2 separate regions of the Homo sapiens genome follow, and region 1 is linked to region 2. A link means that fine-mapping ties the variant in region 2 to the expression of a gene that starts in the linked region. Tissue or cell type: whole blood. Region 2 holds a variant in brackets; the other region holds the start of a gene. All regions are shown on one strand. Distances are from middle to middle.

What was found. PIP is the estimated chance that this variant, and not a neighbour inherited with it, causes the effect. A credible set is the group of variants that fine-mapping cannot tell apart.
Region 1: it holds the start of SIDT1, and the variant in region 2 is the best candidate, but not a certain one, in a credible set for the expression of SIDT1 in whole blood (INTERVAL, PIP 0.74).

Annotation. Positions count from the first base shown.
Region 1 is chr3:113,529,967-113,535,352 of GRCh38, forward strand. SIDT1 (SID1 transmembrane family member 1) reads left to right here and starts at 2,589. Exons shown (of 25, transcript NM_017699.3): 1 at 2,589-3,277. The coding sequence starts at 3,056. RefSeq lists enhancers at 1,981-2,200, 2,221-2,410, 2,551-2,880, 3,351-3,480 and a silencer at 3,151-3,200.
Region 2 is chr3:113,642,428-113,647,813 of GRCh38, forward strand. No RefSeq gene overlaps it. Among named protein-coding and RNA genes, the nearest start is that of MIR4446, 50 kb to the left of the region's middle. The variant C/A (reference allele first, on the strand shown) is at 2,488.

The DNA.
Region 1 (5,386 bases), 110 kb before region 2:
AAAAAAAAAACTGCCTTTAAAATCAAAACAATTGAACTCATGGAGAAAGAGAGTAGAAGGATGGTTACCAGAGGCTGGGAAGGGTAGTGGGAGAGCTGGGGGAGGAAGGTGGGGATGGATAATGGATACCAAAAAATGGAATGAATAAGGTGTAGTATTTGATTGCACAACAGGCTATAGTCAATAATAATTTAATTGTAAATTTAAAAATCACTAAAAGAGTATAATTGGGTTGTTTGTAACATTATGGATAAATGCTTGAGGTGATGGATATCTCGTTTTCCATGATGTGATTATTATGCATTGCATGCCTGTATCAAAATATCTCATATACTCCATACATATATACACCTACTAAGTACCCACAAAAATTTAAAATAAAATTCCTTTTAAAAATAAAGAAAAAAACCACCTACCTAATGGACCACATTTTATTTTTTAGCTATTGAACTAGCAGTCACACCATAACAGTATTTGTTCATTCAACACTTTAAACTTTTTAATGTACTTTCAAATACATCATTCTCCCTTTTATCCTTACAACAACCTTGTGATCCTGAGAGGTTAATTACTTGAGGTCACTGAATGACTTTTGGCTAGAATAAGGATTAGATAATATTACAGAGTGACTTGTAATATATAACTCAAATTGTTAGGTATAGATAATCCATACAAATGGCTTTAAAATAAATATTTTGGGTTTCATGCTATGATGAAGGATCTGTTCCATTTGCTTCCAATTTAGTTGCGTAAAGTTGAGATAAAATCTTGAAGGAAGGGTCATAGCACCATTTAAATACCCACAGGTCTGTCATGTGGAAGAAGTATTAGGTTTATTCCTATGACTCCAGAGGGCAGAACTAGTACAAGTGAGTAGAAGACAGGCAGATTTCAACTAAGAATATGAAATGTCTTTCTAATAATGAGACACTTGCCCCCAAAAGAAGGTGTTGACTTGTGAAAGAACCAGTTCCTCATCTCTTATAGTGTTTAAAAAGAACGCCATAATAGAACTCCATAATCCTAGAGACTCCTTTAACTGGTCACACCAGCTAACCTCCAGGACCTTCGTAGATTTCAAGTTTATGAAATGTTGTTGAACTTTGAAAAGAGGCACAGATATTTTGAATACAACAGTTTAAAGTCATTCAAATTCTGGATGAAATTATTTCGTTATGCTCCTCAAAAACAGTGAGTTCTATTTGAAGTTTTACCCCCAGACTCTCCTTTGAATTAGTATTTTTGCCCATATACCCATATATTTTCAAGAAATTTCTTTCTTTCCTTCCTTCCTTCCTTCCTTCCTTTCTTCCTTCCTTCTTCCTTCCTTCCTTTCTTCCTTTTGAGATAGGGTCCTGCTCTGTCATCCAAGCTGGGGTGCAGTGGGGTGTTCACGGCTCATTGCAGCCTCGACCTCCCGGACTCAAGCAGTCCTCCCAACTCAACTCCCAAGTAGCTAGGACGACAGGCATGCACCACCACGCCCAGCTATTTTTGTATTTTTTGTAGAGATGGGGTTTCATCATGTTGCCCAGACTTGTCATGAACACATGGCCTCAAGCTAGCCCACCTCCCACTTCAGCCTCCCAAAGTGCTGGGATTACAGGCATGAGCCACTGCACCTGGCCAAGAACATTCAAAACTTTAAAACTGAAAATTGTCCTAATAAGGAGTCTACTAACTTAATCTTCCATCAGCATTGTTTTCTGATTTCACAGAAAACTTTACAACAAATGTATTGCATTCATTCTTGATGTTTTAAGAAATTAAAGGAATTAGACAAGGTAAAAACAAAAACAAATCTATCTCTTTAAAGATGGCAAGGACTAGGATTTTAATCTGTAATCTTAAATTTTTGAAAAAGATCTTTTCCTTCTTAATGACTTCTTTTTAAATGGTCCTTCAGGTTGAACACAATTACATTCTTTTATAGTATACAGTAATGAAGCTGAAATAAAACAGTGAGTTCTCTTCCACACGTAAATTGTGATTGTTCAATGTTCTGCAAGGTCTTCTGATGGCCCCATTCTCACCCTGCTCCTTACCTGCCTCTTTAACTCTTTAAATCTAATCCCCTAATTTTTATCAGAAAAGTATTTCCTTTTTACGATAGGCTGTGGTTTCTGCCTTTAAAAAAACAATCCTGGGGTTTCTCTCAGAATCTGGAAGAAGTCATTGCAATGGTAAAGTAGGTAAGAGGCTGGGGTGGAAAGAAATGCCTTCTGCATAAATCTAGTTAGTCTGAGTCGTTTTTTGACAACTTCCGGGACCAGACTTCAGGCAGTGCTGGAAATTGTTCTCTTTACCATATCTTTTTTTTTTTAACTGTACATATTTACATACATACACATATGGTGAGGGAGAGAACGTGATGACGTGAGACTCTCCATGGAGAGTAGGAGGTAATAAAGAAATAAAACAGGTGTCTGAGGAGAGGTTCTATTAGAGAGGGGAGAATAGAGAGTAATTATCGTTCAGACAGGCAAGAGTTCTCTGCAGGTAGCAGCCTGGGAAAGCGAACTCGCGCACCCTCTTGGGGGACGGGCTCTTTTGCTTTCTATTTCTTCTCCTGCAGCCAGGGTGCACACGTATTTGAAACAGACCGAATTTCCTCCTCGATGTGGCGTCAGGTTGACTTTTCGAGACTAGCGGGTATTTCTTTTTAATGACTCCAATGCCTTTTTATTATTGCTGTTATTGAGGTTGAGGGAGAAGAGATCGGTCTAAATTCTGGCTGGGTAAGTGGGGGGATTCTCGGCGATGAGAAACGGGGGACTTAGAAGCCGGAGGAAAATCAGCAGCCCCACATCTCCACTTCTCCAGTCCGCCCTACTCTCCACCCGTGACCTCCAGTGGAGACCCCAGGCGGCAGCATCAGTATTTGATCGGCCCTTCGTCAGCACGCTGCCAGCCCTGGCCGGCTGGGTTCGCCAGGCATCACCCGCTCGGCTCTGAAGCGGACGCCTGGCCCTGCACCGGGCTTTGGAAGGACCCTCTCTGCGCTCGCCCCCTCCCCAGGGTGGCTCCGCTTTCGAGCCCGGGCGCGGTGCCCACCATGCGCGGCTGCCTGCGGCTCGCGCTGCTCTGCGCGCTGCCCTGGCTCCTGCTGGCGGCGTCGCCCGGGCACCCGGCGAAATCCCCCAGGCAGCCCCCGGCACCGCGCCGCGACCCCTTCGACGCTGCCAGGGGCGCCGATTTCGATCATGTCTACAGCGGGGTGGTGAACCTCAGCACCGAGAACATCTACTCTTTCAACTACACCAGCCAGCCCGACCAGGTAAGACACTCGCTCCCCTCGCTCGACTCCTAGAACTTGCCAGATCTCAGAGCCCCGTCGCTGCTTTGGAGTCCCCTGGGAATTGACCTTGGGAGACTTCGGGGACCAGGGGACTTTCTTTCCCTTTCTCCTCCGAAGCAATCGCTGCCCTGCCCTAGCTGCCTCAACACGCCTCGGGGACAACTCTGCTTCGCCTCGCGCCTCTCCTGGCCTGGTCAAGGGCATTGCTGGGCTTTGCAGAGGCACCAGTTCCCCGCACCGTCTGCGGGTCCTGGGTCCCTGCTGGGTCTTTCTCCAGGAAAGTCCTGATTTCTAGGGTTGCGGGGTGTGGTGTGGAGTGCGAAGAAGAACCGCACCTCGGTTCCTAATCCCCTGCAGGGAAGAAACCTAATTTCAAGTGGCTGATTCAGCCAGACCCTTCTATTTCATAGCGCATGGGGAGGGAGAACTGCTCAGAATCTAAAATGGAAATTGTGTGAAAATGGACGGAAGCTGCAGAACCTCTGTGCATTCAACAGTCACTTCCTGCGTTTTTGTGCCATTGTCACACGTTGTGCTTCAGAGACGCCAGAAGACCTGGGCAAAGACGTGAGAACTGCAGCCATCAGCTGATCAATCCAGGTTTTGATTTTAAATAAGGATGGATAATTGTGTGAAAGTTCTAGACCTATTTTTGACAAAAGTTGAGGGAAGATAAGGAGGGAAAAATGTTCCAGTGACTATCCCTTTGACATATATACTCCGATTATATAACGTAAGAAGATGCATATAGTTCATTTCTTTCCTCTAGTGTGGTACCTCTGGAGCACTGGGCGGGGAGAGAGAGGGAGACAGAGAGAGAAAGAGAGAAAGAGAGACAGAGACAGAGACAGAGACTCCCCAGTGTACCAACCTCTGGATCTTCTTCCCATATAAATGTGTTTATGTATCCCTTACTATACCAGCATCCCCTACCCTCTAGGGAAATTCCAGAACTAGATGATTGGGATACCATGATATGCCTCCGTCTGATTCTCACTCCAGATCGGAACTAGAAAACCTCATCACTTCCCAAAGTGAGGGTGGTTTGTATTGAGCAGGGGGGACCAATGTGCCTAACACTGCTCCTAGACATCTTCCAGCTGTGTGTAGCCAGAAAGTGCCCTGAGTGCCCCATCTCCAGTGTGGCACCAAATCCTATGGCACTGTTACCATGGCAGCACAGCCCTCACCCTGCTCTGTCCTCCAGTAACCTTCAGGTTATATGTTCTGTAGTGAGCAGAGTGGCTGTATGCAGAGCCATTTCATGGTAGACAAGGGAGAGGCTGCAGTTTTTGTTTCCCAAACGCCATATACCCAGCCTCTTTCTATCTAGCGTGGGAGAACTCATCGACTGGTTGACATGTTGCACGTGAGGTGTGTTCCTAGTCCTGTGATTGGCTGGGAGCAGAAAAAAGTCTGAAAACTCCATGATCTCTGGAGTAAGTCTCAGCTTCCCCCTAAATCATTGGTAAGAAAACTCAAATTACATGTGCTAAGTAAATCCTGACATCAGGCTTTGGTATTTCTTGCAGTTCTGCATAGAGATAGAGCATCTACTTATGAATTGTTGCCTTTACATTTTCCCCTTGTACTGTGTGAGTTTTGCACTTGAGATCACCTGGTTGACTTCCCTAGTAAACCTTGAGATATTGAGGGCAGGGGCAAAGTCATGTTCATCTCTGCCCTCCAGTACCTAGCACAGTGAATGGCACATAAGAGGTTTATAAGCCAGGCATGATGGCTCACACCTGTAATCCCAGCACTCTGGAGGACAAAGTGGGAGGATTGCTTGAGACCAGGAGTTCAAGACCAGCCTGGAAAACATAATGAGACCCTCTCTCTACAAAAAATTAAAAAATTAGCTGGGTGTGATGGCACATGCGCCTGTAGTCCCAGCTACTTAGGAGGCGGAGGCAGGAGGATCACTTGAGCCCAGGAATTTGAGGCTGCAGTGAGCTGAGCTCTTGCCACTGTACTCCCACTGGGGACAGAGTGATACCCTGTTTTTTCAAAATGTTTTTTTTTTTAAAGAAAAGAGAGGCTTATAAAAAACATTTAGTGTTTTCCAAAAATGAACAAATAAGTGAA
Region 2 (5,386 bases):
GACCTCGTGATCTGCCCGCCTCAGCCTCCCAAAGTGCTGAGATTACAGGCATGAGCCACTGCGTCCAGCCCTTTCTGCTTCTTTTGAGCTCCTTTAATTTATCCCAGCAACATTTTATAGTTTTTGGTGGGTAGCTTTATTGCTTAGTAATACACTGGCAGGGAATACCACTAAAATGTTGAATAATTATCATTCTTGTCTTGTTTCTAACTTCAGGGGGATATCATTAAGTGTGACAGCTGTGGGGTTTTGGTTTTGGTTTTTTTGTAGATGTGCCTTATCATATTGAGAATGTTTCTCTTTCAATTTTGTTTAGCATTTTTGCCATAAATGGATGCTGAATTTTATTAACTGTTTGAGTTACTATATGCTTTGTTCCTTTATTCTACTAATACAATGAGTTGAAAAATTGATTTTAAAGTGCTAAAACAACTTAGCTTTCCTGAAATAAACACCATATGATGATGATGTACTATTCTTTTCCTATATCACTAGATTCAATTTGCTGACATTTTGTTTAGCATTTTCATACTTATGTTTATTCAGGATATGGGCCTATAATTTTCTTTTACTGTAATGTAAATTTTGATATTGAGGTCATGTTAACTTCCTAAAGCAAGTTTAGAAGTGTTCCCTCTTTCTCTAGTTTATGAATTTGAGTAGATTGGTGTACTTCTTCCTTTGATAGTTAGAGGAATTTACCCCTGAAATCACTTGAGCTTGAAATTTTCATTGTAGGAAGATTTTTTTAAAAACCAACTTTACTGAGATATAATTCACCATAAAATTCGCCCATTTAAAGCATAGAGTTCAACAGCTTTTAGTCAATTCACAGAGTTGTGCAACATTACCATGATTAATTTTAAAACGTTTTCACCACCCCCAAAAGAAATTCCACACCCATTAACAGTCATTCCTCATTTTCCTCCAAAGCCCCCAGGTATCTAGATACCTACTAATCTGCTTTCTGTCTCTATAGATTTGCCTATTCTAGACTTTCATAGAAATGGAATCCTACAATATGTAGTAGGAAGATTTTAAATAATAGATTCCATTTCATCAGTAGGTATAAGACTATAAAGATTTTCTATTCTTCTTGTATCTATTTTGATAAGTTGCATTTTTCAATAATTTTGTCAATTTCCTCTAAGTTGTCAATATTATTGGCATAAAGTTGTAAATAATATTTTATGTTTTTAATTTCTGTATAATGTTTTGTGATGTCCTCTTTTACATTCATGATATTGATCATTCATATTTATCTTCTTTTTTCCTGGTCTTTTTTTTTCTTTTTTTGAGACAGGGTACCATTCTGTCACCCAGGCTGGAGTGCAGTTGCGCAATCTCAGCTCACTGCAATCTCCACCGCTCAGGGTCAAATGATTCTCCCACCTCAACCTCCTGGGTAGCTGCAACTACAGGAGTGCACCGCCACACCGAACTAATTTTTGTATTTTTTGTAGAGACAGGGTTTTGCCATGCTAGAATTATAGACGTGAGCCATCGCGTTTGACCTCTTTTTTCTTTTTTAGCCTTTTCTAAGTATTAACTTTTTGTCTGTTGATTTTCTCTGTCAGCTATCTGCTTTGTATTTTATTGATTTCTGCTCTATTATACTTTTCCTTTGACTTACATTGGACTTAAGTTACTATTTTTCCAGCTTCTGGAGATGGAAACTGAAATCACTGATTTTTTCAAATTCTCTTTTTTTACGTAGGCATTTAAAGCTATACATTTCCCTCAGATTAATGCTTTAGCTACATCACACAGGTCTCTCTCTCTCTCTCTCTCTCTCTCTTTCTCTCTCTCTATCTCTCTCTCTTCCCTCTTATCTCCCCCACACTCTACCCAAACATTAGAGAGACTTCTTTCAGGTGGTGGGCTACCTCACCCAGGGACTCTTCACACTTCATAAGTTTGTGTAGTCCTGAATGAGGAATAAACGTTTGAATTACTTGTGGCCTCTGGTTCTTATGTAGCATGTTTGACATCCAACAGCTTTAAAGGGGTGGGAACAGCAGACCCAGCAGCAAAGTCAGGCCATAATAATCTGATTTTACTATAGCCATATTAGCTTTCTTTTTATTAGAATTTACATATCTTACATATCTTTTTCCATCCTTTTACTTTTAATCTGTTTCCTTATAATTAAGGTGGGTTTTTTGTGCATTTTGTAAACAACATATAGTTGATTCTAATTTTTGTAATTCAGTCTACTTTTAAAATTTTAAATGGCTATTTCAATCTATAATATACTGATCTAGATGGTTGTAAGTCCATCATTTTTCTGTTATTTTTCTATTTGTTCTTTTAATTCATTTTTTCTGACTTATTTAAAAGTGTGTCCTTAAATATTTAATTATTTGATTAAATACATTGAATAATCCAGTATTTTGTTATTCCCTTTTACCTTCTCTATTTTATCTTATCTATTAGCATTTCAGTTTTGCCCTACTTTATTATTCTTTTGAAATTATAATACAGAAC[C/A]TTGATTTATTACCATCTACCTTTAATTATCATTTTCTACAACTTCTCAGCAATAAAATATCCACACCAGTTTTACTTCATTTATCCTCTCACTTTGTCTTATTATTGTAATATATTTTACTTCTGCATTTGCATAAGCCTTACAAGACATTGTTATTGTTTTAAATCTCAATATTCTTTTATATTTGCCAATAATTTACCCTTTCAAGCCCTCTTCACTTCTTTCATCTGGGATCATTTTCCAGCAAACCAAATAACTTCCTTTAAAATTTCTTGTAGTGCTGGTCTACTGGTAAAACAAAATATTGCTCAATTTTTGTTTGTATGAATATGTGTTTCTCTTTTAGTTTTTAGGGAATTTTAATAATTTATAGAATTCCATGTCAGTAGGTTTTTTTTTTTTTTTTTTGTCCTTTACTTTTAAGATGCCATTCCACTGTCTCCTGGCTTCCATCATTTTTGTTATAAAGTCAGCAGTCCTATTGTTGCTTCTTTGTAGGCAATGTATCTTTATCACCCAGGTGCTTTCAAATTTTCTTTTTTTTTTTTTCTTTTTTGGACATGGAATCATACTCTGTCACCCAAGCTGGGCCAAGTAGCTGGGATTACAGGTGCCCACGACCATGCCTGGCTAATTTCTGTATTTTTAGTAGAGACAGGGTTTCACCATGTTGGCCAGGCTGGTCTCGAACTCCTGACCTCAAGTGATCTGCCTGCCTTGACCTCCCAAAGTCCTTTATCTTTAGAGTTCAGATGTCTGCTTATGATGTATAGGTGTAACTTTCTTTACATTTATCCTACTTGTGGGTTCACCAAACATCTAGAATCTATAGTTAATATATTTATCAGTTTTGAACATTTTCACCCATCAAATATTACTTCTGTCCAATTCTCTCTCCTCTCTGTTTGAAGCTCTAGTGATACATAAGTTGGATATTTTGACAGTGCCCCACACATATCTTGCATTTTGATCACTCTTTTCTATTCCTTTTTTTTTCTCTGTGCTTTGGTTTGATTTCCTATTGACTGATATGTGTACTTTACTACAAATTTATTTAAGAATTTCCTGGCTGGGTGTGGTGGCTCATGTCTGTAACCCCAGCACTTTGGGAGGCTGAGGCAGGTGGATTACGAGGTCAGGAGATCGAGACCATCCTGGCTAACATGGTGAAACCCTGTCTCTACTAAAAATACAAAAAAAATTAGCCAGGCGTGGTGGCGGGTGCCTGTAGTCCCAGCTACTCGGAAGGCTGAGGCAGGAGAATGGCATGAACCCCAGAGGCAGAGCTTGCAGTGAGCCAAGATTGCACCACTGCACTCCAGCCAGGGTGACAGAGCGAGACTCCATCTCAAAAAAAAAAAAAAAAAAAAGAATTTCCTAATTTCACTTTTCCAGCTCTAGATGTTCATTCTATTCTTTTTTTCCATTATTTGTCAGGTTTATTGAAGTATAACTTACATCCAAAATCCATCTGACAGAGTACAATTCTGTGACTTTTAACCACACAAGATATAAAACATCTCCCCCCAAAATTTGTTCCTCTTTGTAGTCAACCCTTCCACCTTCCCCCAGCAACTACTGTTTTCTGTTCCATTTCGTTTTTTATAAATTATAATTCTCTATTTTTAACGTATTTTAAAATTTTTCCATTTTAACATATTTTTATAGTTATTTTAAAGCCCTTGTCTGTGCATCTTGATTGTCTGTGGGTCTACTTATACAATCCGCTTTTCTTTCTGCTTTTTGGCCACATTTCCTAGACATTGTATGTATTTTCTGGGGATTGTATATAAAAGAACGTTAGAAATTAAGGTGGATGGTATTTTCCACCAGAGAGGGTTCATGTTTCCTTTGTTAGGCAGAGAGTATTGAGCTGTATGAGAGCTGGGATGTAGCTTTAGTTAGATTCAGTTTGCCTCTGGTTTTAAATGTCTTGAGAATGACACCTGCTCCCTCTAGCAGGACGTTGTCTCCTAAGCTTCATGAAACTATGGGTGCTTTCACTCTGCCTTTTCAGCCCAGACTCATCCAACATCCCCAGGGGAAAAAAGACCAGAGATCTCAGCTTACCTAGAAATGGAATTTCTCTGGAATTTTGTTCAGATAGTTCTCTTATATTTGTAATTGCTGTTAATTCCAAAAACTACACTATAACTTTTAGGGAGATTAAATTTAAGCATAGTGTTTGCATCTTTATGATTTATATGTCTTTCATGGCATATTAGGGCTTCTTGTATAATCAAAATGTATCTTCCATCTATAACATCTGAATGGGAGGTGGTATGCAATAGTAGGAAGTTAGCCCTTCACAGTCAGAATACCGACTTTTAATCTGAAGTCCCAAGAAGACGGGTCAAGGAAAATATTGTGAGCTTTAATTTCCTGGAGTATATGTGAGAATAAGTGGTGTCTAAGGTCCTCATTTTACCTTTTATTTTTATTTATTTGTTTTGAGACAGAGTCTTGCTCTGTCGCCCAGGCTGGAGTGCAGTGGTACAATCTTGGCTCACTGCAACTTCTGCCTCCCAAGTTCAAGCAATTCTCCTGCCTCAGTCTCCCCAGTAGCTGGGATTACAGGCATATGCCACCACACCCAATTGTATTGTAAAAATACAATAATTTTTGTATTTTTAGTAGAGATGGGGTTTCACCATGTTGGACAGGCTGATCTCGAACCCCTGACCTCAAGTGACCCACCCGCCTTAGCCTCCCGAAGTGCTGGGATTACAGGTGTGAGCTACCGTGCCTGGCCATTTTACCTTTTAAAACATTAGGATATATTTTAGACATTCATAGAACAAAGACTTCAGGCATAAATGAGATCAACATCTGAGCATCTGCTACCCAGTGCAATAGAATATAACAATACTTTTGAAGTACTCCTCCCTCCTTGATATC